Homo sapiens: one gene and its partners. The protein of the gene in region 1 purifies or fractionates together with the protein of each later gene. This does not show direct contact. Each region holds a gene or a part of one and is shown in the gene's direction. Other genes may lie near its edges.

The links.
Region 2: the proteins of PTPN14 (region 1) and WWC2 purify together in Homo sapiens (affinity purification with mass spectrometry, with the first as the bait; 3 studies listed by BioGRID). This does not show direct contact.
Region 3: the proteins of PTPN14 (region 1) and STXBP4 purify together in Homo sapiens (affinity purification with mass spectrometry; 4 studies listed by BioGRID and IntAct, with this or other methods). This does not show direct contact.
Region 4: the proteins of PTPN14 (region 1) and WWC1 purify together in Homo sapiens (affinity purification with mass spectrometry; 8 studies listed by BioGRID and IntAct, with this or other methods). This does not show direct contact.

The regions. Positions count from the first base shown.
Region 1 is NC_000001.11:214,380,600-214,387,623, reverse strand, and holds part of PTPN14 (tyrosine-protein phosphatase non-receptor type 14), read left to right. Parts: intron 1-701; coding exon 702-780; intron 781-2,835; coding exon 2,836-4,313; intron 4,314-7,024. UniProt on the Homo sapiens protein: Protein tyrosine phosphatase which may play a role in the regulation of lymphangiogenesis, cell-cell adhesion, cell-matrix adhesion, cell migration, cell growth and also regulates TGF-beta gene expression, thereby modulating epithelial-mesenchymal transition.
Region 2 is NC_000004.12:183,263,255-183,270,278, forward strand, and holds part of WWC2 (protein WWC2), read left to right. Parts: intron 1-1,723; coding exon 1,724-1,853; intron 1,854-2,433; coding exon 2,434-2,514; intron 2,515-2,610; coding exon 2,611-2,697; intron 2,698-5,716; coding exon 5,717-5,909; intron 5,910-6,740; coding exon of another isoform or gene 6,741-6,788; exon of another isoform or gene 6,789-6,793; intron 6,794-7,024. UniProt on the Homo sapiens protein: Regulator of the Hippo signaling pathway, also known as the Salvador-Warts-Hippo (SWH) pathway.
Region 3 is NC_000017.11:54,964,023-54,971,787, forward strand, and holds the start of STXBP4 (syntaxin-binding protein 4), read left to right. Parts: upstream 1-4,742; 5' UTR 4,743-4,793; intron 4,794-7,765. Other genes in the region: COX11 (cytochrome c oxidase assembly protein COX11, mitochondrial), read right to left, coding at 675-830, 4,259-4,624. UniProt on the Homo sapiens protein: Plays a role in the translocation of transport vesicles from the cytoplasm to the plasma membrane. Inhibits the translocation of SLC2A4 from intracellular vesicles to the plasma membrane by STX4A binding and preventing the interaction between STX4A and VAMP2.
Region 4 is NC_000005.10:168,294,642-168,301,665, forward strand, and holds part of WWC1 (protein KIBRA), read left to right. Parts: exon of another isoform or gene 1-1,643; intron 1,644-7,024. UniProt on the Homo sapiens protein: Regulator of the Hippo signaling pathway, also known as the Salvador-Warts-Hippo (SWH) pathway.

The DNA.
Region 1 (7,024 bases):
TTACTGCAACCTCCGCCGCCCAGGTTCAACGACTCTCACGCCTCAGCCTCCCAAGTAGCTGGGACTACAGGTGCATGTCGCCACGCCCAGATAATTTTTTTCTTTTTTTCTTGGAGACGAAGTCTCAATCTGTTGCCCAACCTGAAGTGCAGTGGCACGATCATGGCTCACTGCAACCTCCAAGTCCCAGGTTCAAGTGATTCTCCTGCCTCAGCTCGCGAGTAGCTCGGACTACAGGCATGCGCCACCATGCCTGGCTAATTTTTGTATTTTTAATAGAAATGGCATTTCAATGTGTTGCCCAGGCTGGTCTTGAACTCCTGAGCTCAGTCAATCTGCCTGCCTTGAATAATTTACCTTTTCTAAAAGTTATTCTTGTGAAAGAAGGCATAGAGAACTTTGCAAATATATTAGAACATAGATAGTAAATGGTTACATTTAGTCTTTGATGGTGACCTCTTTCTCTTTCTGATCTTGAACCAACTTCATTTCTCCCTTACTGTTTCTCCAGTTCCAAACTTAGTGATGAGATGGGAGTGCAGACGGGTAGAAGAAGGTTGAGTCAAAGGGGTGGCAGGGACAGCAGCTGCCACGAGCCTCCCTTACAACGTGGCGGGACTGCCGTGTGCCTGGGCCGGCTGTGTGAGTCACCAGCCGTGTCTGCCCAGGCCTCCCCACCTCCTCTGTGTTCTCTGTTTCAGCCCAGGCAGCAGCCGTACATCCTGCCTCCCGTTCACGTCCAGTGTGGTGAGCACTACTCGGAAACGCACACCTCGCAAGGTAACTCTGGCTTGCCGTTCTCCCTTCTTAAGACAAAAAGTTGAATACCAGTAAGCAGTAAAGAAGGCTTTAAAAAAAAGATGACAGGGATGCTTTCTTTTCAACTTTGTCATCGTCTGAATGACAGTAGCTAACAGCTTCAGTTTGTGGAAGGCCTAGACTGTCAGTTACCTCTGATCAAAAAATTTCCCCAGTATTGGCTGCTCAGGGAGTCGGGGCCAAGGCAGCGAGCAAGTCCTTTTCTCCTCCCTTTCCTAAGGGAGCTTAGAGAAGAGAGTATGACAGCTCAGCCCAAGCGAATGCACTTCACCTTCATTGCCAGTATCAGAAAGCTCGTGGCAGTCACTCAGCTTTTCATGGTGACGTAGAACACGGGCATGCAGAATAATTGGAAGAAATAAACAAAGTCAGCCTTTTCTTTTAGCTGTTTTTCTCATCTCTTTCTCCAGCCCCTTTCTTGGTACACTTGCTTTTTTCTTCTCTGAGTAAGGTAAATCTGTTTTATTCCTCTCTTTCTCCCAAAACATCTCCCATGCAAAATGTGTGAAAAAGCTTCTTCTGCTAGTAATGACTCCATGATAACAACTAACATTCATAGAGCAATTGTGGTATTGCTGTAAGTACTTGCTATATATTGTCTTATGTCATCCTTAAAATAAACCTATAGGTACTATTATTATTTCTATTTTACAGTTATAGAAATTGGAATACAGAGAGATTAATGATGGAACTTATATATGAAAATCGGTAACTTGTAATCGTTATGCTAACTGCATTTCAAAAAGAGAGATGGTAGAAAACCGTGGATGTTGGAAATGTAGTAAATGGATAATATAGTTTCTACGTTATCAACTCCTGGCCATTTTGAATCCTCTGCTGTCTGAAAGTGTGAGCATGAAAACCAAGACAATCAAGACTATTTAATTTAATAAAAATAGTACTTTTTATAAGGAGACTGGCAAAGTTACCACATTTCTATGGGAAGGCGCCAAACCCCATGGGAGGTGGATAAATTGCGGCACATTTGTCTCTGTGTTCCCCCTGTTTTTTGTGCCTGTCTCATCTGATCAGATCTCTTTCCACATTCTTCCTCTTCAGACAGTTGAATGTCTTCAGTCACCTTTTCTGTTTTTCACCTTCTCTGATTTTCTGTTTCTCTGTTTTGCTCATGTTTAAATCTGTAGTGTGAAAATGAATATATTTTGGCCACAGAAAGGCAAGAGGTTGCCTTCCTTGGGGTGTGTGTGTGTGTAAGAGAACACCAGACACCTGATTGTAGAAATCAATCAGGTTGGGCCTGATTGTAGAAATCAATCAGGTTGGGCCTGATTGTAGAAATCAATCAGGTTGGGCCTGATTGTAGAAATCTGCTTTTTCTCTCTTTAGGTACCTCTTTAAACTATAATTAATTTTTACTTGAATTGACCTAAGTGATGAAACCAGATCTAGAGGGGATTTGGGGAATTACCAAAAAGAACTCTTGATTCTAATTTTGCCCTTTATTGCTGCTCAGGATGAACTAGCTGTGCGGACACCCTGGCTACATCATTTGTTTTGTGTCTTTAGAATGCCCTGCAGTCCCCTGGGTGAAGGGGCTTTTTCCATTGCCGTCAGGAAGAGCAGCTCTGAGCACTTAGTAATTGAAATCTATTGCCCTATTAAAGTTCTTGACTGTCTTGTCTAAATATTCAGTCCTATTGCCGAGCCCTGCACAAGAGGACAGGCCTCCCCAACTGGAGGGCTGTTGTTGGTGCCTGATTTCAAAGCTTATGGCAAAATTGAGAACTTCCTCAAGCGACACTTACTCCAAATGTGTGCATGCCTTCTTCCATTAGGTTCCCTTTTTCTTTTCAGTATGTCTTAAGGTGTTCTTTCTGTATGTTGGCATTTCATCCAAGATAGTATCTGTTATTCTATAGAACATGTGGGTGGAGACCATGGGATTTCACTTTTTATGATTTGTTTAAATTAAAAGTCACCTCATGAGTATGAGGATGTACTTTGTTGTGGCAGGATGGCTTGGAGGTTCACGTGCCTTTGTTTGACTTCTTGTAGACAGCATTTTTCATGGGAATGAAGAAGCCTTGTATTGCAACTCTCACAACAGCCTGGACTTAAATTATTTAAATGGCACTGTCACCAATGGCAGCGTGTGTAGCGTTCACAGCGTCAACTCCCTCAACTGCTCGCAAAGTTTCATCCAGGCCTCCCCTGTATCCTCCAACCTCAGTATCCCTGGGAGTGACATCATGCGGGCCGACTACATCCCGAGCCACCGGCACAGCGCGATCATCGTGCCCTCGTACAGGCCAACCCCCGATTATGAGACAGTCATGCGCCAGATGAAGAGGGGGATCCTGCATACAGACAGCCAGAGCCAGTCTCTGAGAAACCTCAACATTATCAACACCCATGCCTACAACCAGCCAGAGGATCTGGTGTACAGCCAACCGGAGATGCGGGAGAGGCACCCCTACACTGTCCCTTATGGGCCACAGGGGGTCTACAGCAACAAACTTGTCAGTCCATCTGACCAGAGGAACCCAAAGAATAATGTGGTACCAAGCAAGCCGGGGGCAAGCGCCATCTCGCACACGGTGAGCACCCCAGAGCTGGCCAACATGCAGCTGCAGGGCAGCCATAACTACAGCACGGCCCACATGCTTAAGAACTATCTCTTCAGGCCACCGCCCCCCTACCCACGGCCACGACCTGCCACCAGCACCCCAGACCTGGCCAGCCACCGCCACAAGTACGTCAGCGGCAGCAGCCCGGACCTGGTGACCCGGAAGGTGCAGCTCTCGGTGAAGACCTTCCAAGAGGACAGCTCTCCGGTGGTTCATCAGTCTCTCCAGGAGGTGAGCGAGCCCCTCACGGCCACCAAGCACCACGGCACTGTGAACAAGCGCCACAGCCTGGAGGTGATGAACAGCATGGTGCGGGGCATGGAGGCCATGACGCTCAAGTCGCTCCACCTCCCCATGGCTCGCCGCAACACGCTCCGGGAGCAGGGACCGCCCGAGGAGGGGTCAGGCAGCCACGAGGTCCCCCAGCTCCCTCAGTATCACCACAAGAAGACCTTCTCTGATGCCACTATGCTAATCCACAGCAGCGAGAGTGAGGAGGAGGAGGAGGAGGCTCCAGAATCGGTGCCCCAGATCCCCATGCTCCGGGAGAAGATGGAGTACAGTGCCCAGCTGCAGGCGGCCCTGGCCCGCATCCCCAACAAGCCCCCGCCTGAGTACCCCGGTCCAAGGAAGAGTGTGAGCAATGGGGCTCTGAGGCAGGACCAAGCCAGCCTTCCTCCCGCCATGGCCAGAGCCAGGGTGCTGAGGCATGGGCCAGCCAAGGCCATCAGCATGTCTCGGACTGACCCGCCGGCTGTCAACGGGGCCTCTCTCGGCCCATCCATCTCGGAACCCGACCTGACTAGTGTGAAGGAGCGGGTCAAAAAAGAGCCTGTGAAGGAGAGACCTGTGTCTGAAATGTTTTCCCTGGAAGACAGCATTATAGAGAGAGAGATGATGATCAGGGTGAGTGTCCTCCTCTCCCAGGGCATTTTCCAGTGTGAAAGCACATGCTTCAGGCACTGAGCAAGGGGCAGGGCTTATGCAGGGAACGTGGTAGGTTTTTAAGGAATCATTGAGCATTTAAAAGGTAGTACTTTATTACACAAAATGTTGAGTTTTTGCCCTTTCAGATAAATCTTCCATTCTCATTTGTGGCTTCTAACAGGTGTACTTGGTACGTTATTGAGGCCAGTGCCTCAGCCAGCATTTTGCTGTTTATTCAAAGCTCAGACTTCCAATTGGGTAAGCTGGTATTGGGGAAGTTCACCTTGCTGTGTCTTTTAGTGTTTTGTTTTCTTGAAGGAAAGCTGTCCCCCACATCCAGTTAGGTATTAAAGAGCAACATCCCTATACCGCCTTCTGTATAGATCCGTAAGTCAAGACTCACCAGTATTGTCTGGACTGTGATATGTCTAGCTTTGTATTCAGATTTTCTTTCAATAGATGTTTCACACAGATTCAAGAAAATTATAGTAATTGGATATATAACTTAGTAATTGGATAAATAATTCTCCATTGAACTTATTCTGTCAAAAATTCACACACATACGTGAATACACACATACATATATACATACATATTACCACTTGAAGATCCATCCTAGTACTAGACATGAATAGCTCTTCTTCATAATATGTACAGAGCCAGGTATGGTGGGGGACACCTGTAGTCCCAGCTACTTGGGAGGCTGAGGTAGGAAGAGCACTAGAAGCCAGGAGTATGAAGCCAGCCTGGGCAGTATAATGAGATCTTATCTCTAAAATAAAATAATAATAAAAAAAGAACCAGCCAGACATGATGGCAGGAGCCTGTAGTCCTAGCTAATCAGGAGGCTGAGGTGGGAGGATCGCTTGAGCCCAGGAATTCAAGGCTTTAGTGACCTATGATTTTGCCACTGCACTCCAGCCTGGATGACAGGACTAAACCTCATCGCTTTAAAAAAATATATTGTACAATTTGGGGAGACAGTTAAGTTGTCAGAACAGGACTATGCAGGCACATATAGAACAACGAAGTGAATCTGCTCTTACTAATGAGAAAATGTTTGGATTATAGCTACTTTAAAAAATCTCGACTGGGCACTGTGGCTCACGCCTGTAATCCCAGCACTTTGGGAGGCCGAGGTGGGCAGATCACAAGGTCAGGAGTTCAAGACCAGCCTGACCAACATGGTGAAACCCCATCAGTACTAAAAATACAAAAATTAGCCGTGTGTGGTGGCGTGCACCTGTAATCCCAGTTACTCAGGAGGGAGGCAGGAGAATCACTTGAACCCACAAGGCGGAGGTTGCTGTGAGCCGAGATGGCACCACTGCACTCCAGCCTGGATGACAGAGCAAGACCCCGTCTCAGAAAAACAAAAAAAAATCTCCATTGCTGCTTGCCATGAACATTTTCACTCCTTTAAAAAAAACCTATTAACTAGAACTAATCAAAGCCAGATTGACTTCTCTTCATTCACCATGGCTGCACCATAAGGTAGCCAAGCCTAATTTTAGGAACTCCGAAACAGTTGTAACTTAAAATTTGCTTTGATGGATTCCATTAGGCCACCTTCATTTCCAGGTCTTCCTAACCCATCACTGGGATTCAACCTGAAAAGAACAATCAAGGCCCAAAGTTTTAAGGAAGCCAAGTTCCTGGGGTCAGAAATTGAATCTGTAGCAACCTTGTTACTTTTGGAAAACCTTAAGAACATTCTCAACCTCACAGTTCTGGCCAGCCCCACTAGAGTAGTGCTAAGAGATTTTTATACAGATATGACTTTTTGCAAACCTAGAAGGAAATTGTGCAAGGTGTACCTTTGCCTCTAGCAAAGAAAACCTTTGGCTTGGAATGGAAGAAATGGGTAGGTGCTGTTGGGAGAGAGCTTTCCCAGCATGGAATAAAGCAATTTATTGGTAGAAAATGATTTTTCAATACTTCTTCCAGACCACTTAAAAGCAACATTAGCATCAAGAACCTATCAGTCTAAGCATTTAATTTAGCTATTTCCCCTGCCAACTTGATACTTAATGATGTCCACATGGTCCCATAACCTCATTTTGGTTGTATTCATCCTCTTCTCTTGTTACTCGTATTAAACAAATAGCCTGTAGCCAAAATCTTGGCATGGGTCTCCTCCTTAGAGCTCCTTGCATTATCACAAAGGAACAAGGAGATTTTCACTATTGTTTTTTCTCCAGATGCTTTTCCATTCCATTCATGTGGGTAATAATGACTAGCAAATTTTAGCCATTAACCTTTAGTTCAAGAAAATAATTACCCCATTTCTACTTCATTTTCCCTGTTGATTTTTTTTTCCCCCAAATCTGCTACACTCAGGAGCTCAAGGACACCGGCAGACCTTAGAGTTGGATTAGGAGCTGCTTCAGTGAGCCAGGAGGCCAGGCAAGGTGGTGACAATGCCAGTGGCTTTGAGCCCAAGATGAGTCTCCATCTGTTTTGTTTTTAATGCAAAAACTCACCCCATAGCCTAAGCAACATCCCCACAGGTCAGATACTTCTCTGCTCTCCTCACTATGGGCAGCTTTTGCCAGCTTGATGGGAATTCATGAGAGGTGATGGCCATTCTAAGGGCCCTCTTGATCAGAACACAATGAGAAACTTTTAGCAAAAGAAAACTCAGGGGCTGGCGGGGTGTGCAGGTATGGTGAGAATTTGCCCTCTGGGC
Region 2 (7,024 bases), on another chromosome or scaffold:
AATTTGGAGGGGCAGTAAGTGAGGCTGGATGCTGGAGAAGAGGGGAGAGAGTGATGAGGGAAAAAGTTGCCTAAAGTCTGTCACCCACCCAGTAACCCTGAGGTCTGGGAGTCCTGTCTTGCAAGTGTGTCTGGTTGGCCCATGCCTTGCTCCTGACACTTGGGTCTTGCTGTGTCTGAAAAGTTTGTGGATGGAGACAGTATCTCTGAACCTTTGTGAAACAGTTTTTAACTTTTTAAATGCATATATTAGAAAACTGCTGTTAAAAAGTTACCCTAAGAGAAAATACATCCAAGAGCTTTGATTGCAGATAATATTCAGTTGCATGTCTGAAAACAAGTGAAAGCGTATATTTAACCATAAAGGCTAATTCTCACAAATTAGCTGGGCATGGTGGTAGACATCTGTAGTCCCAGGAGGCTGAGGCAGGAGGATGTCAAGGCTGCGACGAGCTGAGATTGCACCACTGCACTCCAGCCTAGGTGACAGGAGTGAGACCTTGTCTCAAAAAAAGGAAAGATGAATTATCTTCAAGTCACCAGCACTTTTTTTCAGGGGACGTCTGCCCTGCATGTGGGGTGGTGGCTCCCTATCAGGGACGTTTGTCATCTCCCTCAGTGCTCTAGAGGCTTAGGCAGGTAAAGTCAAGTCCCTTTTACGTAAACTTTGCTGTCCAGTGCCAGTCCCTGCTGGATGACACCAACCACGTTGGAATAACTGCAAAGGCCTTCCGCAGTCAGTCACTGTCATTGTCAAAGTCAATTTCAGGCTGCTGTGGTTATTCCTGGGGGTAATCAATAAATCATGTCATCACCTTCACCCTTCACAAAGGGGGGTGGGCGGAGAGAAGGCACTTCATCATCAAGGAAAAAGCATTCCCACTGCCAGAAATAAAGTGGAAAATGCAGCAATCAATCCTGTAATCTGAAGCCTTAAAACTTAAACATCTTCACAAGATGTAAAGTCACGGCTCAGAAGGGGGCCAAAATGCATACCAATACAGATCCCTGCGCTCACTCTCACTCACTGGAGGATGAAAGAGCACCACAGGCTTGCAGCTCATTACAGTACAGAGCACAGCCTTAAATGAATGTTCCTTGCTCACTGCAGGATGCTGGTGTATGAATATGAGTTCGAGATAAAAGTTAAGTGGTCATTGGTACTAAAGATTCAGTAGCACAAAAAGTTTTTTAATGGTATTGGCTGGTGAGGAGTTCCTGTGAGTCAAAGACATTTTTTCTTTATTTCTGTTAGAATAGTAGCACAGGAGATGTAGGATATGGCATGTGGAGAGAAGGGGAGACCAAAAGAGGTGGAAACTTATCCATTGAGTAGCTAGAAGCTCTCTCTGTGATAGAAATGTCACTTGAGGGAGATAGATCATTTCCTATTCCTGAATATATGAACACTGCAGTGAATGCTTGAAAGAAAGAGACTAAGGACCAATGAGAATTTGTGTAATTCATCCCTTCCCTTAAAATATTTCAGGACAAAGAAAAACCATATTCTCTTCCAAGTAATGACTGAAAAAACTGGCGTCCCAGGAATCTTATAAGTCATAGTGCCTTGAGTTGTTTACAGCTGTAGATTTGAATATTAACATCCTTGACTCCCAGAAGGAAATCTTATTTTGGATTGCTCATGACCAAACTATGTATGTATTTAATACTTAACTTTTCCAAATAAGACATTCTGATTAGTGCTCTCACCCTCCCCTCCATAGATGTGGAAAAATCATTACCAAAAAGAAGAGTGATCCACTTGCTTGGGGAGAAAACCACTTGTGTGTCGGCTGCTGTGTCTGATGAGTCTGTGGCTGGAGACAGTGGGGTCTATGAAGCTTTCGTGAAACAGTAAGGATTCAGCAGGGGCGCTTTTAGCTCCAGCGAATCTCCATCGCCGTGGATGTGGGTTATATGCTGTAAATGGACTGCTACCATTAGTCCGCTCTTTGGCTTAGTAAGGACTTTAGCCGTTAAAGAAGTGGTGTGCCTGAAAAGTTCAGTATATCAAAAATGACTTAGCCATGGAAATTATCGATAAACAGATTGGTGTACCCAGAGGCAATTGACCCTCTTTAGAATTTAAAAACCTTGAATTTAGTGGGAATATTGGAAGAATTCACCAGACCCTGTTTGGCACATGAAGCTTCTCACGTGTATTTCTGAAAGTCTGAAATGTCTCAAGGGTGTGGTATATTTCTAGTAATAAGGAAAGTAGTCATCAGAGAGGCTTTGCCCTAAAGCCCAGAGGCGGGCTCTTCTTGAAAAGAGCCTCTGAAACAGTAAGCTTTCGCTGGGATCAGTTCCACTGGGAGGGCATAGGAGTGCTGTTAATTTGGATTTTCATTCAGAATCACTAAGTGGCAAACTGTTAACCATAACAATCGATAACCCCATTAATTAACTGTTCATCTACTCCCTGTCCATATAGACCTAGTGAAATGGAAGATGTCACATACAGTGAAGAGGATGTAGCCATTGTAGAGACCGCCCAGGTTCAGATAGGACTCAGGTAAGGAATGTACGTGGGAAAGGAGCAGTTCTGACATCTGTGCAGGGCAAGTGGCCTGTGGTGATTCCTGACTTCATTTAGCCTCTCTTTTGACAGATACAATGCAAAAAGTTCAAGTTTCATGGTGATTATAGCACAGCTCCGAAACCTTCATGCCTTCTTGATACCTCATACTTCAAAAGTGTAAGTAAAATCAGCGAAGATCAAATTGAGGAACTTAAACATTTCCATGTAAGAGAATTTTACACTGTAATCATACAGTTCATCAAAATGAAGATACGGAAAAGACATAGCAGGGCTGATCATGTCTAAATGAATGGCAGATAAAGATGAGAAGGGAAATGTGAGGAAGACATATTGAGTTTTAATTCTTACTCAACTGATTCTTTCTAAGAGTAGAAGCCAAGACATTTAATCTCTTTTTTGTAACCAGAAGCACTGTTTTATGCTGTGTTGGAATTTGATTGAAATATGGGTAAAATTTTTGTTTTTGTGTAATTGTTACTACTGTTGTTTAAGGAATTTTCTAATCTTTTACATTAAAATGTAGTGATTAAATTTTATGTATCTGTACAACATTGCCAGTCAAACATTTTATCATGCTACATGTAAGAGTATGTTTTTATCATCAAGCATTTACTTCCCTGTGACCAGTGAGTTCTTAAAGTTATTTCACTTCATCAAACCAAGAATCCCAACAAAGTGATGACATAATGCTACACAGTCCATTGCTTAGAGACTTTTTGCTTCCTGACAGATAAGCCTAAAGATCTCATGACAAATAAGTCTGGAAGTCTTAGACACCACCATTCACATTTTCTGACATCAGAGTTTCAGTGACTCTGAAGGGCTCATGGCTGGAAAGTACCAGGAAGAATCCAGACTTCGACTTAGCACTATGACGTAGAATCCGGAATATGCATGTCCACTCTGCATTGAAACTTCCTGTAAGAAGTGGATCTTAATAATATTTTGAATATGCAGTGCAAGGCTTTGGAAATTTAAAAAGAGCTGTTGAGGGGTGATCCCCAAGACTCTATACCCAGCCAGGTGAATGTTTTCCTTAATGATAGAGTATATTCCTTAGTGATAAGACTTTTAATAGAATAAATTAAAGAGTTCTGCATGTTTTTCCTACAGAGTTGCTTGTAAGTTCACCTCCTAACATTCCAATAATCATCAGAAAGAAGAAACTGGATCTAAGAGAAAAAGAACTAGATAGAAATTATGTAGTTGACAATAGAAGAATAGAGATAGTGGCTTTCTTTTTTTTTTTTTAAGAGATGGGGTCTCACTGGGTTGCCCAGGCTGGTCTTGAACTCCCTGGGCTCTCCCACCTTGGTCTCCCAAAGTGCTGGGATTACAGGCGTGAGCCACCGAGCCCAGCCAAGATAGTAGATTTTAATGTGTTGACAAGCATCAAAGCTGGAGGTAGGATAGGATTCCAGGAGGAGGGTGAGCTTAGAGAACTTCCTGAATCAAAGTGTGGACTGTCCACATCATTAGTGAGACCAGTGAGGAGAGCAGGCATCACATAGAAGTGCCTAGATCAACGCAGAGAGCCTGCTTCCCAAATGCGAGATGAAAAACACCAGTCAGCGGTGTCCAGGAAGACTGGCTTGATATAAACTGTGACTTCTCCCTACCAGTAGATAAGCTGTGATGTTGGAGCATGCCATTGGTGGCCTTTTAGTAAAGCAAATCATGGAGAAGACAAGTCTACCAGAGACTGAAACAATAAACAGTGAGAACTAATGCACAACTTCAGGAGAAAACTACAGAACACCCCAAGAACACACACCTTCTTTAAACTCACTGTAAGGGTGCACCTGCAATATGCTCTACTTCAACTAAACCAATCACAGTCATTCTCACTTACCTCATAGGATGTCACCAAGTCCCTTCTGGAGGCATGGTGATACCTGCGTAGTGTAGGACCAGTGAAATACTCAGCCCAACCAATGAGCAGACATTTGCTCTTCGGCTCCCCAGCTAATGTGCAGGCACTTGTTGAGTTGGTGCGAACCTTCCTGACATATATAGCAATCTTTCCTTAAACCCACATGTAAAAGCCTTGGCCTAAATAATGACACTGCTAAACATGACAGCTAGTATGAAATATTCTTAAAATTGTTCTTTTTTTTCCCAACCTCAAAAGTTATTTTTTGATTATTAATTGTGACAAGCAGAAAAGATTTTCTTCTGCTGAATCTTCGGCCTCCCAGGGACAGTGAGCTGTGTCTTAGTAAGGCTCTTTAATCAACAGCAGTGGGCTTCAGGCCCACTAGGTTTTCATTGCTGAATCTCCATAATTAATATTGATATGAAATACAAAATAATATGACATTCCTCAGTTCTGCATTTGAATTACAGTTTTTCTAACGGAGAAAGGCATGTTTTAGAATCTAGATTAGACAAGCCTGGAAATGGGGGTGGAGGGGATAGACTTAGCGGTATTCTCTTCCTGGGATTTAAAGGAAGTTACCTCACGCTCTTTCTAAGAATTGTGGGTCCTCATACAATGTGTGCTCAGAAGAGTCACTTTAAGGTAGTATTAGAAGTTATTGTTTTTCTATAACTCTTCCTCTGAATTTTACAAAGCACGGGACTCTTAAAACAGTTTGTCGTATCTCAGAATTTGGAGATGCTAGACAGTGATATTTTTGAACCGTTGTTTCATCTGTTTTAAATTTTCTTAACAATATGCTACTGAGCCTTTCTTTTTCTCTAGTAGGATAATGTATTCCATTCCTGGGAGGTGATCATCAGCATCTCTTGTTTAATACTCAGGATGAGGATTCTGTGAGATAAAGTCACCAGTATCTACTTAGTGTGTTCCCACCTTCCCAGGCTCAGAAATAACTTATTTTGGAATTGGCTGTCCATGGGGCAGGTGGGACGTTAAATTCGTCTGCCCTACGGATTTTCTTCCTCTTCACTTTCCTATCATGTGCCTTTGCTGCAGTCTCGTGGTGAGTGGAGGCTGGGCCATTGCATGCTCAGGGGCGTAGTCAGCTCGGGTGGGTTAAGGACAGAGCATCTATGCAGCTGAGCACGGACCCGTGATGGCAGCAACACTTTAGATTGATCTTGAACTCCACGATCCCTCATTTTCTCTCTTTGCAGATAATTTCAAATGATAGCTGTGAATCTGGTATAATTAAAGTACCTATGAAATCCATTTTATTCTTGTTCTTTGCAGATATTTTAGGGTTGCCGTTCTTCCTTCCTCAACTGATGTCAGCTGTCTGTTTCGCACAAAAGTTCATCCGCCCACAGAATCCATTTTATTCAATGATGTGTTCAGAGTCGCCATTTCCCAAACAGCCTTACAACAGAAGACACTGAGGGTAGACCTTTGCTCTGTCAGTAAACACCGAAGGGAAGAATGCCTGGTAGGATTCTTCATAATTCCCATTACCAAATAGCACTTAGATTGGGTGGTCTGAGGATATACTTTGTAGTTGCTATTTTGCCAGCCCTAGAAATCACTACAGACCTGCCCAACATCTTGGGATACATCTAGTGTTTGTTCATTTTTTTCTGAAGTAGTGGTTTCTGTTTATTCTCTTATTCCAGACCTTTAAAATCTGCTTATAAATTGTGATTTTCTGTAAAAGTTGCTTTCTATTTCTACCTTTTCACCACAGAAGAACTTTACCTTTGTGACAGCTATCACTCATGGAGTGTGCTTACCACTCCCAGTACCAATGCCAAGCTTTGCGTGACTGCTGTGTATATATTATCTCATTTAATCCTCATGACAACCTGATGAAAGATTGGTTATGAAATGGATGATTATCCACTATTTTCAGATAAGGAGCTGCTTAGAGAGGTAATATATTCAACGGTCATACAACTAGTAAGCGATGAAGCCAGATATCAAAAAGATATCCCCACATAATTACATAATTCACTGTTACAAATTAAAATTAAGCAAGACCACTGAGTACTATATAGTACCCTTATTCACCTCATTCTCCTCCACCACAGTATTGGAGCTTTCGGGAAGATGTGATGTTACTGTTTAAAGCAATATGACATTTAAATGCTACAGCAGAAGACTTCACAGTTAACTAATTGTGAGTTTAATACACTGTTGTGCGTAATAACCAGAAAACCATTATGTCCCAGTAAAGTTACATAAGTATTCAAATGCAGGCATCTAGAGATGTGCCATGTGTTCAGAAAACAATGTGAGTCTCCAATTGAGCTTTTCTCTGCAGTCCAGTGGGAAGCACAGAAACACATGTTTCATGATGAACAAAGTTTAAGAGGGGTAGGTTTCTTCTTAATTTTTCTTCTTGTTTTCTTTACTTGAAAAAAATATCTGATGATATTGTCTGACAATAAAGTTAGAAAGAAGCAGAGCTAACAGACTCGTTAGGCTATCAGAAAGGCTTTAGTATCATAGATGTCATATTTAGTATAATAGATGTCAGAGGCTCCCACAAAGTTCATAAATATTATATTGATAGCCTTAAAGAAGAGTGTAATTGAATTTAGATTT
Region 3 (7,765 bases), on another chromosome or scaffold:
AAAATCTTTATTAAGAGATTCAGTCATGTTTACTAAACTGGGCAAGCACTAATATTTATAAGGCTTTTCCAATATGGGTTGAAATTAACTCACTCTGGCTAATCCTCAATTAATGAGATTTCAGTTAAAATCTTTCTTACAGTTGGTTAAAATTTTAGGAAAGCGTTTAGGTATAGTCTCAGTCTCACTGGAGTATAACATAACTATTTACTACTTATTGATTATTTCAAAGGCCCTCAATTTGTTTTCTTTTAGAAGGACAGGGATACTTTTGATATAAACCAGTAAACTACTCATTGTAACCAATGCTTTTCCACATTTTTCCCATGTCTTCTATGCCTGAGGAAAAGTCAGGAAGCTATATAGCCTGACGGTTACTGCTACTCCCAACTGTTTCACTCATCTAAACTTAATTTCAAAATACTGACGGGTTCCATTACTATAAATTTTTTTATTCCCATAGACTACTTTTTAATAGTGCTTTACACCTAATGTAACAGAATTTATACTTTAACTTTTAAGTTACATGATAGTAAAAGTCAATTTGGAACAATGGAAAATGCCATGTTTTATTAGAATCATAGTGTTAAAATTAGTCCTCTGACAGTTTAAGTGATGAAAGAAAGGAATTTACATTAATAAAGTAATCTTTTAATGACTGGTTAGTCACTTACATATATTTCTGTTTGCTGAGGTCTAAAGTTCCACTGGAGACTTGCATGCACATCTGCATTAAAGCTAATTTTAATGATTCGATCTTTAACAGGCACCATGTTTTCAATCTTGTCTGAGGCATGACCTGCAACTGCTGATCCTCCAAGTCCAGTAGTCTAGAAAAAGATACCAAATATGTTAAACAATACTTTTAGGTGTTGATGATCTATTTATTTGATAAAAGTTTAAAAACAATGTAGTATTTATAATCCATTTGGAGCCAAGTTTACATATGGTAACTGACCATTGCTGTAACTGTGTCAAGAATCTGACTACTTTTGGGATGTCATGAGCCTGTATTTGTTAAAGTCATTCCTATTTTTCAGCAATCCCTTGGTTACCTGGCATGGTCAAAAATGAGTCTGGGAAAAGCAGGTTCACTAGATAAGTCAACTATTATCACTGATAGTCGAACTCACAATTTCCAGCTTAGCCATTTATAAAAAACACATTTCCCTTTATTGCTAGTATTTCATTAATAGAAATAAAATTTACCCATGACCTTGTAATTCCACTGAAAATACTTAACTCAATTTTTCCATATTCCTGTCTGGTCCTTTTCCATATCACAGCTTTTATAATCCAAATAAGATTGTAGCTTCACTTTTATTAACATTCTGCTTTTCTAAGGTATCACAGGTATTTTCCCACGTTGGTTAATGGTTTTGAATCTTTTCTGTACTTCTCTGTATAGTAGAGCTTTTATATAAATCACTAATCAGAGCACCTAATCCCTATGGCCACAGAAATAATCATAGGGCATCAAGAGTATTTATGTCTGACATTTCTTTTATTCATGACAGTTATTTCCTTGACATCACTTTTAAAAAAAGCCCTTACCCAGCACTTTGGGAAGCCACGGGGGGCGGATCATGAGGTCAGGAGATGGAGACCATCCTGGCTAACACAGTGAACCCCCGTCTCTATTAAAAATAGAAAAAAATTAGCCGGGTGTGGTGACACGCGCCTGTAGTCCCAGGTCTACTCGGGAGGCTGAGGCAGAAGAATTGCTTGAACCCGGGAGGCGGAGGTTGCAGTGAGCCGAGATCACACCACTGCACTCCAGCCTGGGCAACAGAGCAAGACTCCATCTCAAAAGAAAAAAAAAAACGCCCTTACTTCCAAGGTCATCTTTCTTCTGATACTTGAGGTTGCCAGAATTCTGATTTCTGGATAATTTGCCTGTTACTATGCTAGGAAGAAAAAACAAAAAACAAATTTGAGGCTAGGGGAAGACTCCCAGCAAGATACAGTGTTTTAGCATTCTCTGTTTGTTACGCAAGTCAACTAACTTCATTTGACTGCCATGCAACATTACTGAATTACATTATATCCCTAAAAGATGCATCAGAGGGCAAGCCTTTATCCTTGTTTATCCTTCTGCCTGAGTGCTGTGTTTAAGATGTAACTTCTTTTACTAAAAAATTTAAGTCACTTAAATAAAAATACTTTTAAGTGTCCTCCCTCAATAAAGATTCCAATATAGTCTTTGAATATGGGTTCAAATTTCTAAGTTCAATGCCTAAAGTAAAATAGACAAAAAGACTAGAAAACAGCACTAAAAAGATGTCCTGGTCTCTATTCTAGTTGTGCTACTAGCTCTAAGAACCTGATAGATTACAAATTACATTTGGCTTCCTGATCTATGATTGCATGTGGGCACATTTCACACGCAATATTATCAGTTATTTCAGTTTGGGGCAGGGTTTCTCAATCTTAGAACTATGGACATTTTGGGCTGAATAATTTTTTGTTGTTTGGGGGTGAGGCAGTGCTTTGTTGGTTATTTAGTAGCATTCCTAGCCTCTACCTATTAGATGCCAGTAGCACCCTATACCCCCACCTCCATGTTGTGACAACCAAAAATGTCTTCACACATCGCTAAATGTTCCCTGAGGGGCAAAAATCTCCTGGCGGTCTGAGAAGGATCTAGATTTGCTGATTTGGATTCAGTTCTGCTTATGATTTAACCAACTGGTAGTTTTAGAATTCATGCTTGGGCTTGGTCTCTGATGAAAAGTAATTCACATTCTATACTCATCCTCAAAATCAACTATTGCACATTCCCACATAAATGCTGGCATTAGGAGACTATGCCAGAAAAGAAAAGTCCTTTTGTCTTCTGCTTCATCATCTAAAAGAAAGGTAAATTGATTTCCACGGGCATGGTGGCTCACGCCTGTAATCCCAGCACTTTGGGAGGCCAAGGCAGGAGGGTCACTTGAGCCCAGGAGTTGAGACCAGCCTGAGCAACATAGGGAGACCTCGTCTCTACAAATTTAAATAAATAAACGTGCGCGCGCGCGCACACACACACACACACACACACACACACACGGAAAGAGTGAACTCCAGCTAAGAATACCAGTCATGGTGTTAAAAAAACAATTCCCAAACTTTCCTGCACGCTGGAATCACCTAAAACATACTTGACAATTACTGATGCCTGGTTCCCACTGTGGCCTTGTGATAAAATGGGTAATGTGTGTGGATTTTTAGAAGCTGTCCAGGTGATTCCCAATGTTGCTGTACAATGAATTTTGGGAGCCACTATCTTAAACACTTACTGAATCACTTGTGGCATGATTTTTAAACCGAAATTCCTGTCCCTACCCTAGACTTCCTAACCAGAATCTCTGGGGTAGGGGATCCCTGGAACGTGTATTTAACGTTAAGCTCCATAGGTGATCCTAATGGCCAGCCAAAGCTGCAAATTATTAGCTAAGAACAAAGGAGAAATCTCTAAAATACGTGAAACTTGTCTTTGCCTGTGGTTCTCAAAACTTGCCCTCAAAATCAACTACAGGACTTAACTAAAATATAGAGTGCTGGTCCCACTCCCCTTCTTCTCCCCGCCCCACCCCCCCACCCCGTGTTTCTGACTCAGTCCTGGAGTCGGGCCCTAGAATTTGCACTTTTAACAGGTTCCCGGGTGATGCTGATGCTGCCGGTCCTGGGCGCCACACTCCCAGAACCGTTGCAATGTACTTAACAGTTTCCAGGTTAAGTACATTACAGTTATATATTAACAGGGGTGGGGCGAGAGAGCCTCAAAGGCCTAATTCATGCCTCTTTGTACGGAGGAACTGCTAATCCCAGTTTAAGCCCAAGAAACACGAGTAGTCCAATTTCCAGAGTTACCCTTGGCACATAAACCACATGTGGTTTGCAGAGTGAATGTATGAATAATACATTTTAAAAGCGTGTGTGCGCAGGAGGGTAAGGCAGACTGCTAGATACCCGGTTAGAGGCTGCGGACCTTTTTTTTTTTTTTTGGCGAGGTGCAGTTCATAGATCAGGGGTTTCACTCTGCAGCATGGTATAAGCACAATCACTAAGAACTGGATGCTACTTGCAGTTTTGTCACCAATTTCTTTGGTGACTTTGGGTGTTAAGTGACTGTTTTGAACCTCTCTCCTCTTAGGTAGATAATATCGGAAACCTCTTCCACCTACGACCCGCAGAGCGAGGGCTTGTCCCGGGATTTGTCTTGCACCCCCACCTCTCGCGTCTGCGCCACCCTGCGGGCGGCGCCGGCCCCTACCTGGCAATAGAGCCGATAAAGGGGTACGGCAGCGTAGGACGCCCCCAGCATGCCCACGGCGACAGCGGCCACGTAAGTGAGGGTCGTCTTGTTCTGCCGCCGCCGCTCCTCCTCCTGCGCGCGTGTGAAAGGGTTCGAGCTCTTAGGCCGCCGCGGCGGCTGCAATGCTGGATGCCGGGCTCGAAGGCTGCAGCGCTTCCATGTCCCAAGCCACCTCAGTCCTCTCTCGGCACCTCCTGTCCCACTCCACTCTGGCCTAAGAAACGGCTCTACCCTCTCTGCAGCCCTGGTTGGAGACCCAGGGTGGATCCAGCGCCAGCCACAGAAAGGAACGCACCTCCATCCAGGACGCCAGAGCCCTCCCATAACCCTCTGAACTAACACCCACCCGCCTCTCAGGGACGAGAGGTCAAATCTCGCGAGGCGTGCTCCGTCTCGCGAGATCTGGGTTGAGCCTGCCGCTGCCTTGGCTACCAGGCTCCTCAGGTGGCAGCGCTTGCAGTCGGGCTACGGAGGCCGGGTTGCCAGATTACGGGTAAGTTTGCGTTTTGCTTTGTGACTGTTACTCCCACTTCGCTTCTCGCCAGAACGTCTCTTAACATTTAGGAAAATGCGTTTCGCCCGTCCGCGTGCAAGCTTGCCATCACTTGGGGTTGCGCCTGTGATCTTTATTTAAACTCCACCAGCCTTTGTCTCGACCCGGCAGCCCCGGCGACGCTCTCCCGCGGTCTTTTCTCCTGGGGTCCCTTGGCCGCTGGCTCCTGTGCTCACTGCCCTGGACTTAGTTCAAGTATCACCTCTCTCAGGAAGCCTTGCTGTGTTAACCGCAGCCCTCATGGGCACCCACGACACCTGCATTTTCTCAGCCCGTGGGCAGTCGGCTTCCCCTGCTCTGATGCCCCTTACAACTTGCCCAGTGGAAAGCACCACAGCTGGAGCAGGAGGGAGGCTGTCACGCTGAAGTTTGTTCTGGAGAGAGTGACCAGGATAGGAGGGCCATTTAAGGAGAGACTGAAAGAAACGAACCCCGTGGGAGGATGTAATAGCTTTCTTCAGTTGTCCCACAGGACGAACTCGAGGGGGGCAGACAGCATAGCGGATTTTACTGTGTTAGAAGGAAGCATCTTTCTAGAAACTATAAAATAGCAGTTAAGAGCTCAGGTTCTGAGGTTAGGGGGTTCTGGATTTTTACCCGGGTCCTCACCATGGCCCTGTGCCCTTAGGTCAGTTACTTGTCCTCTAAGACCTGGTGTCCTTACTTGTAAAATGGAAATCAGAACAGTAAATGAATAATATTCATATAACGTCTTTCATGATGACTGAGGCATAGTAAGAATGTAGTTAAAAGTTAGGCTGTATTTCTACTTGCTACGTGGCCATTTCTAATGGCCAGAGCAGGTATAATTATCCCCACTATGTGGATGAGGAACTTGGAGGCCTGAGAAATTTTAACTAGTCATTCGACATTTTATTTATTTATTGCCCTCTCAACTGTGGGCCTGACACCAATCGACCTGCTGGCACTATAGCACAGAACAAGTCGGGAGATCACTTCAGTGATGGAGTGTCCTTTCTGCTGAGGGACTCAGAAAATAATCAAGTAACAGTTACCGAAATAAGGGAATTTCAGATAACAATCAGTGCAGTGAAGACAATGTAATAACATAGTATGATTGACAGTCATGAGAAGCGGTAGTAAAGTAAGGACGTTTTGAAGAGGTGACATTTGAGTTTAGATCTGAACGATGATAAGGAGCTACCTACTCAATAACAATTCCAGGCCAAGCAAAGGCCCAGGGGAAGGAAAGAGATAGAATGATTGAAGAACAGAAAGAAGGCCACTGTGTTCCCAACATAGCAGAGTGGAAAGTGGTAGGAAATGGGGTCAGAACAGGTAACAAAGGCCTGGTAATACCAGCCTTTTAAGCCATGTCCAAGGGTTTGGATTTTATTCTAAAAGTAATAGGAAGCTATTGGAATGTTTGACACATACAAGTGATGTGATCTGACTCACATTTTTGAAAAGATATTGATTACTTTGTGGAGAATGGATTAAAGGTAGGGGGAGGAATGGAAGTAGAACAATTAGGAAGCAATTGCAGTAGTCCACATGAGTGATGATGGTCACCTTGAGTGAGTAATTGATTAACTTGTGGTCACAGGGCCAGAAAATTGCAGAACCAATAAAATATAAATACCTTCTGACTTCTTTCTATACTCTGGCATACTGTCTCAAAAATTTCAGGTCTCCATGATTCTACAAATTTATTCATATTGTGTGATGACAGTGTTTGAAAATCTTTTTCATCTGCATGCACCTTGGTTCTTGTACCAGATTCTCAGCTCTTCTAGGATGAGATTTCTCAAAGTTTAATTTTCTTACAGCATAGACTGAAATCCTTGATACCAACAGTACATTTCCACTCACCATTCTGTTTCTCCAGGCACCCCTTCTTTGTAGCTCCAGGTAGCAGTATAAATATATGTCAGTATACAGTCTTTGTCTTGGACTCCAGTATTTCATTTTTTGTATAATAATTGCAAAATGAAACTCTTATGTACAGTGATATTGATAGCAATGAAGTGGTGTTGGTCTTTGTAGCTTTCTACTTTAATAAAAGAAAATATGCATTGTATCTGATCTTAGTATGATAATGTGAAATGACAGTTCATGTTTATGAAATACTTCTGAATGACAACTAAATATTTTGGTTTTTTACTTATATTTTGAATGAAATGTGTAGAACATAATTTAGTTCAATGTCCAATTAACAAACATATTAAACAATTTAAAATATTTCTGCAACATAATAGTACTCAAATTTCTTGTATACCCTTCACCAAGATTAGAGAATGATAAAGATTCTTCAGTCTTTATCTGCATACTTACTTGTTTATTTCCTATTACAAGAACACTTTCTCCTTCCAAACCACAGAGCAGGCATCAAAATCAGTAAGTTAATATTTATCCAGTATTACCATATGTAGTCAGCTTGGACTACCAATAGCAAAATACCACAGACTGGTTGCTTAAACAACAGAAATACTTGTTTCTCAAAGTGCTGAAGGCTGGAAAGTCAAAGATCAATGTATCAACTGATTCACTTCCTGGTGAGGGGTCTCCCTGGCTTGTGACATCTACCATCTTGCTGTGGCCTTACATAGATTGGAGTAAATGAGCTCTTATGTCTCTTATAAGGACACCAATCCCATGAGATCAGGTTCCCACCCTTATGACCTCATTCAACCATAATTACTTCCTAATCCAAATACAGCTACATTGAGGGGTTAGGGCTTCAACATATGGATTTTGGGGGATATATATTAAATTCTTTACATCATGTTATTCATGGACTCTACATAAATTACCCCATTTGTCCCAATCATTTCCATTTTAGATCTAGGATTTAATCCAGGATTACTCGTTGATTTTAGTTGTCATGCCTCTTCAGTCTTCTTCAATCTGGAATAGTTGCCAGTCTTTTCTTGTCTTTTTCTTTCCTTTTT
Region 4 (7,024 bases), on another chromosome or scaffold:
TTGGAGACAGAGTCTCGCTCTGTCGCCCAGGCTGGAGTCCAGTGGTGCGATCTTGGCTCACTGCAAGTCTGCCTCCTGGGTTCAAGCGATTCTCCTGCCTCAACCTCCCGAGTAGCTGGGACTACAGGTGCACGCCACCACATCCAGCCAATTTTTTGTATTTTAGTAGAGATGGGGTTTCACTGTGTTGCCCAGGCTAGTCTTGAACTCCTGAGCTCAGGCAATCCGCCCACCTCAGCCTCCCAAAGTGCTAGGATTACAGGCGTGAGCCACCACGCTTGGCCTTGGGTCACTGGTTTATAAACTTCATCTCTGTACCTCCTTGTCATCCCACCTGGACTGGGGTGGTATTGGGCCCCTGAACTTGGGGTCCTGAGGGGGTCTCATGTCAACTCTGGGGGTCACTATTGTGGTCCAGCTTTGTATGTTTTGGAAAAGTGCTAATTGGAGGATAGCCACTTGTGGTTTTCTGGAATTTCCCTCCGGCATACCCCATTTTTGCCTTTTAGTTCTGTCTGTGTGGCCTTGGGCAAATCACTTGACCTCTCTGAGGTTTGAGTGCTTGAGAAGTGGGTTGGTTAGATGGTCTTCAAGGGCCTGCCAGCTCTTAAATATTATTTCAAACCCTTCTGCCGCTCTTACCTCTCCAGACTCCATGAGAGGAGAAGGGGGAACAGGGATGGGCTATGAGAAAAAGGAAGAAGAAATTTAACAAAGCTGAAAAGAGCCAAACTTATTCCGGGGGGTGGTGGGTTGGGGAGAAAAAATTCTGCCAAGGTAGTTATATCCCTGCAATTAATTAATGCTGTGAGACAAAAAATTGCACTAAAAATTTCTACTCCGTGTGTGTGTGTGTGTGTGTGTGTGTGTGTGTGTGTTTATTTGCCTTGGATTTTTCCTTACCTGAATCATGGAGATGCCCACCCATTCCCCTGAATTTAAAAGAAGTAAGTCAAATGGTCCTTCAGTCAGAAAAGTGATTTCTTAGCCACCAAGGACAAAATAGCGTCTCTGGTTACCAACCCTAAAGAATGTCTTGGCACATTCCTCCCTCTGGGGCTGAGCTGTTTTGTGTGCTGGCCGGCCAGGAGCTGCTGGGGGTAGGGAATCCAGTTTTCAGCTTCCCCTTTCACCAGGGGGTTGGAAGAGCAGCCAAGCAGCCAGCCTTGCCAACTCTCTCCCCTTCTCACCCAGGGGAAGACTGGGAGGCCGAAATTCCTGAGGATGGTTGTCCCAACAACCGGAGAGGGTCCAGTGGGCAGCTTGGGTCCTGCCCACTGGGCCAAAGGCTCCAGCAGCACCACAGGCTTTTCCTGAGTCAAGGCCAGCCTGGGAAGGTGACAGGCCCTTCGGGAATCAGGTGCTGTGGATCAGGTCTGAACAGCACCTTGGAGCCGTGCTCCTTTTGCGGAGTAACTCTGGGTGCTTTTGTGAGCTCTAGCGAAGGGGCCAGCGTCCTGTGTATTTCACTTCGTGGTATGCAAAACAAATGCACCGATTGTTCTCGGAGGAAGAATAGATCTTTGGGGCTGGCCCTCCCAGAGAAGGTTCCTGCAGCCTGATTCCTTCTTGTTGTGCGATTTGTATTCAGACCTTCTCATAGGAACCACCTGGGAATTCTGGGCAGTTTCTGGGTCTGTATGGTAAGTACCGGAGGCACACATGGCTGGAGAGGCCATGCTGAGAGGATCCAGCAACTTCTCCCATGACTTGAGGATCTTTTGCTAACCCTGTTATTTCAGAAATAATTGATATGGTAGGAAGTCAGGTCTACAGCAGTCAAAAAGTCTAAACCTCTGTCAGGTCACAGACCCTTATGAGACTGATAAAGGTTCAGAACTCTTCCTAGAGAAAAGGTTTTTGCACATAATTTCAGGGACCTCCTGGACCCCAGGTTCATAACCCCTGCCATAGATAAGCTTGGAAATTGCTTGTCACCATGGAAAGGCCTCCTGTTTAGCTAGGTAGCAAATAATGATTGGGTATTTACTATATTCAGGCAGTCTGCTGAGAGCTTTACATAGGTTATCTCTTTAAATCCTCCTAACAACCCTGGGACTAGGTACAATTATTACCCACCTGAACTACCCAATGCTCAGGGAGGCTTGGTAAAGCCCCTCAACCTTTGTGGAGCTGTGATGTGAATACTAGGCGGGCTCACACCAGAACACACATTTCTAACCACTGCCTCATTTTACTTCCTGCTGAGTTAGCTGCAGAATCAAGACCACTGCTCCAGTGCCTAAGGAATTTGGCCTTGGGAAATGGAGCCAAAACAGGCATGATTTCACTTACCTGTGACCATTCTGGTGTGGTCAGGTCATGGGCACCTAGAGGGCAAATGTAGATAAGTGAGTCTTTGGCTCCTGGAATCTTGGATCTGCCACTTGCTACCTGAGTTACCTTGGTAATTGACATATTGTCCCTGAACCTTGCGTTTGCCTTCTAATGAATGGAAAGATGTCCATCAACCATCAAGGGTAGTTATGGGTGATAAGTAAGTGAAGGTAGGTAGGGCAGCAAGCCTGAAGTCTGACATGCAGGGGACACTGAGGAATGCCAGTTCCTTTAACTTTTCCTAGAACGTACCTGTGAAACAGCAGCATCAAATGGATGCTGCATATCTACCCAATTTTGCAGCTGGAGTGGACCTTTCTGTTCGTGAAATCCAGGCCTCTCATTTCACTGATGAAATTGAGAACCAGCCTGGTGCGGTGGCTCATGCCTATAATCCCAGCACTTTGGGAGGCTGAGGCGGGCAGATCACCTGAGGTCAGGAGTTCGAGACCAGCCTGACCAATATGGAGAAACCCCATCTCTACTAAAAGTACAAAATTAGCCAGGCATGGCGGTGCATGCCTGTAATCCCGGCTACTCGGGAGGCTGAGGCAGGAGAATCGCTTGAATCCGGGAGGTGGAGGTTGTGGTGAGCCAAGATCGCGCCATTGCACTCCATCCTGGGCAACAAGAGCGAAACTCCATCTCAAAAAAAAAAAAAAAAAAAAAGAAATTGAGAACCAGAGACAAGTGACTTGCCCAAGGTCACACAGAAAATAAATGCCAACCTCGAGTCTAGTAAAAGTTTCTTTTTTCTCTTTCTCTTATATAAATTTTTTACTAAAAGTCAGATCTATGTCCTTCTCATCAATGATAATAATTCACACATATTTTATGTGCATGGCTGCATTATTCTCCATAATCGTTTTTGATTGTATAGACCAGGAAGTTGCATTCATCGTGCGTCACAATCATTTGTGAGTTGTGTCATAGGAATTTGCTGTATGTCAAATGATTACATTTCCAGTGATTGCAAGTGAATTCCTATTTTTATAATCAATTAAAATGGATTTAGAGTTATTGTCAGTCTAATGTCATATTCCAACAAGCTTTGTTTTATTTTATTTTATTTTATTTTGAGACTGAGTCTTGCTCAGTCACCCAGGTTGGAGTGCGGTGGTGCAATCTCAGCTCATTGCAACCTCTACTTCCCGGGTTCAAGCAATTCTCGTGCCTCAGCCTCCCGAGTAGCTGGGATTACAGGTGCATGCCACCTCACCCAGCTAATTTTTGTATTTTTAGTAGAGACAGGGATTCACCATGTTGGCCAGGCTGGTCTCGAACTCCTGACCTCAAGTTATCCGCCTGCCTCAGCCTCCCAAAGTGTTAGGATTACAGGTGTGAGCCACTGTGCCCCACCCAACAAGGTTTCTTAAGTGAGAGTTATAACCAGTCTGCCAGGGAAGTTACCCAGAACCTCTTTATTCTCCATGCTGCTGCTCTTAATGATCCACTAATACCTGTAGATGTATAATAATAATACTTACATACAAGTGATTAGAGGGCTTTTTATCTTTTTCTGAGGCTTGAGTTTAAGATCTACGTATTCCATGGGAGTCTACCATGCCTGGGAACATCCTATGTCAATTATTAAGAAAGAAATGAGGTTTAAAAACACTAGGATAGATAATAGGGAGAAGCAAGAGATTTGGTAACCCAGAGAAGAATAAAATAATAGTCAATACCAGCATCTATTGAGTGTTTACTCTCTGCTGCCCACTGAGCTAAGCATTCTATTTTGTGACCTCATTTTATCTTTTCAACAGCCATATGGGGTAAGTACTTCAGATGAGGGAACTGAAATTTAGAAAGGTTAAGTAACCGGCCGGGCGCAGTGGCTCACTCCTGTAATTTCAGCACTTTGGGAGGTCGAGGTGGGTGGATCACCTGAGGTCAGGAGTTCAAGACCAGCCTGGCCAACATGGTGAAACCACGTCTCTACTAAAAATGCAAAATATTAGCCAGGTGTGGTGGCACGCACCTGTAATCCCAGCTACTCAGGAGGCTGAGACAGGAGAATCGCTTGAACCCAGGAGGCGGAGGTTGCAGTGAGCTGAGATCGCGCCTCTGCACTCTAGCCTGGGCAACAAGGGCGAAACGCCATCTCAAAAAAAAAGGTTTAGTAACTTGCTCAAGATCACCAACAGGTGTTGCATCCAGGACTGGAGCCCACCTAGCTGGATTCTTGCATCTACACTCATACTAGCTGTAGCCTGGTCTGGCTCTGTCCTGGCTTATTAATCCATCTCAGGGCCCCAGAGTGCCCTGTTGACAGCTGGGCTTGAGAGTTACCATTTATTCTTAAAATGGGTGAACCTGATGTGGATCTCAGGGAGAGACTTTGCTAAGGAGCCTTAACCAGAGAAGCCAGTGAGATCCTCATGGCAGCTTAGGAGACTGTTTGGCATAAACTCCACCTTCTGGGAGCAGCTGGCTAACCAGAGCTTTGGGGATGGGAGAAGAGAGAGAGATGGAGGCAGAGGGACTCTTTGAAGGATGCAGTGTGTACAAGGAGTTCACAGTCCTTTCCAAGTCGCTTGGGTAAATGCTCCCAACAGCCAGGGAATGAGTAGCCAAGGCCGTTCCTCTCTGTCGCCATCCCTCCCCCTCCCGGGGAGAGGGCTTATCCAAACTGACCCAATTTTCCAATTCCCTGGGGTCCCAGATTGCTGTGAGAAGAACACTGCCCTTTTGAAGGGAAGAGAATCAGGTTGCCTTAGTTACCTGGAAGGTTGGCACGCCAAGTTCAGGTGCACGTAAGGAGAAACAGGGCTAGAATAAGTGTGAGTCGAAGGTGGCCACCGTCTTGCTGCACGGTTCCCTCAGTGGCAGAAGCCTTGATCAGGCTTCAGTGGCACTTGCAGGGAATGCCGACCTAATGTCAGGTGGCTGTCCATGACGTGTATCAGGAGCTCTCTCCAGCCACATGTGGTGCTAGGTGATGAGGCTCTGCAGCCTCCAGTTCAGCAAGGGGCCCTGGATAAGAGGAATCCACTTCACTTGGAGAAGTGGCCTGGTGACATCCCTATCACCAGCTCCTCGCTATTTGCTAAGGGAAGCACCTCCACTTGGACAGGGCTGAGGGCTAGATCTGGGCAAAAAACTCCCGTCTTGCCTCTCCCAGCATGGAGATGGCCAGCTGGCTGCACACCTTTAGGTAGAACAGCAAAGGTTCAGTTGCTGCTGCCTCGAATCCGTTTCAGAGTGAGATAAAGAAAGAGAAAACTAAGAAACTGGATACAGTGACATTTTGTTATTAGACCTTCCCCAGCAGGCCATTTAGCCTTTAGTTCCTGAGCAGAAAAATAATAATGGGGTGGCGGGAGGAGGGGGCAGGCGTTCACTGTTGTGTGCGGAGAATATTCTCTAAAGATGCAGGATGGGGAAGAGGGGGTGGAGCAGAGAGTGGGGAGGAGGGAAAGAAAAAGGACAAGTGTGGTGGGTCACATGCCCATTCTCCCCACCCCCCACCCCTTGCCAGTTGCCTGCTCAATGCTTCTACCCATGACATCTCACTGTTGGGAAGAAATGAGATCTTTCAGTTTCAAATGTCTGCCAAAGAAAAGGGACGGAGGCTTAAGTTCTCACTCAATGGTCAGCCAGAAAAAAAAAAAAAAATGAAGCTGCATCAAGATTAGGGACACCTTTGTTGGCTTTTTTTTTCTTCTCTTGCTCCATTCATCACTCTCTGGCAGCGAGGACACCAGGCCAACTGCAGCTGCTGACTTTCCCCAGTCGGCTGCCTGCTGTTGCCCAGGCCTGTTTTGGTAGCAACCCCCACACTGGCTTCCTCCCCGCCCAGTGGTGGTTACTTGTTGGATTCGTCCCTGGGGTAGCCCCTGGGATCCACTGACGGGTAACAGACTTGGAAGGATAAAATGTCAAGATGCAGGCATCAGGTGGCTGCTAGGATGAGATGACCCTGGGACAGCCTTCCAGTCCTACATCTGTCGTGGCTTTTCTTGGAGAGTCGGGCTGTGAGCATTTCACTGTATTCCAGGAATTTCTTCTAAGTGCATTGTTTGTCTTTGTATCACTAACAGTGAGAACAATAACTGGCACCTGGTGATAATGGTGATAAATAATCATGATTGTCTTTAAAGATCCTTATCCATTGTCTGTCACGTGCCAAACACTATTGCTCATCATATTTTTATGGCATTTTGCAAATGAGGAAACTGAGGCCGAGAGACAAGTCAAGTGACAAGCTCATTTTTCCACTATGGAAAAAAATGTGTATGTGTTTGTTGTTCCACCCAAACATGGGATTGCATACCACACGATTCACGATTCCCTGTAGTAGATAAGCTCTCCATAAAGATCATTAGAGGACACTGAGTCAAGTCTGGCTTTGTCACTTTAAAATAGTAAGTGGGACTGGGTGCAGTGGCTGACACCTGTAATTCCAGCACTTTGGGAGGCCAAGGTGGGTGGATCACCTGAGGTCAGAAGTTCAAGACCACCCTGGTCAACATGGTGAAACACCATCTCTACTAAATATACAAAAAAATTAGCCAGGCGTGGTAGCAGGCGCCTGTAATCCCAGCTACTCGGGAGGCTGAGGCAGGAGAGTCGCTTGAACCTGGGAGACGGAGGTTGCAGTGAGTCGAGATTGTGCTATTGCACTCCAGCCTGGGCAACAAGAGCAAAACTTCGTCTCAAAAAAAAAAAAAAAAAGTAAGTGACC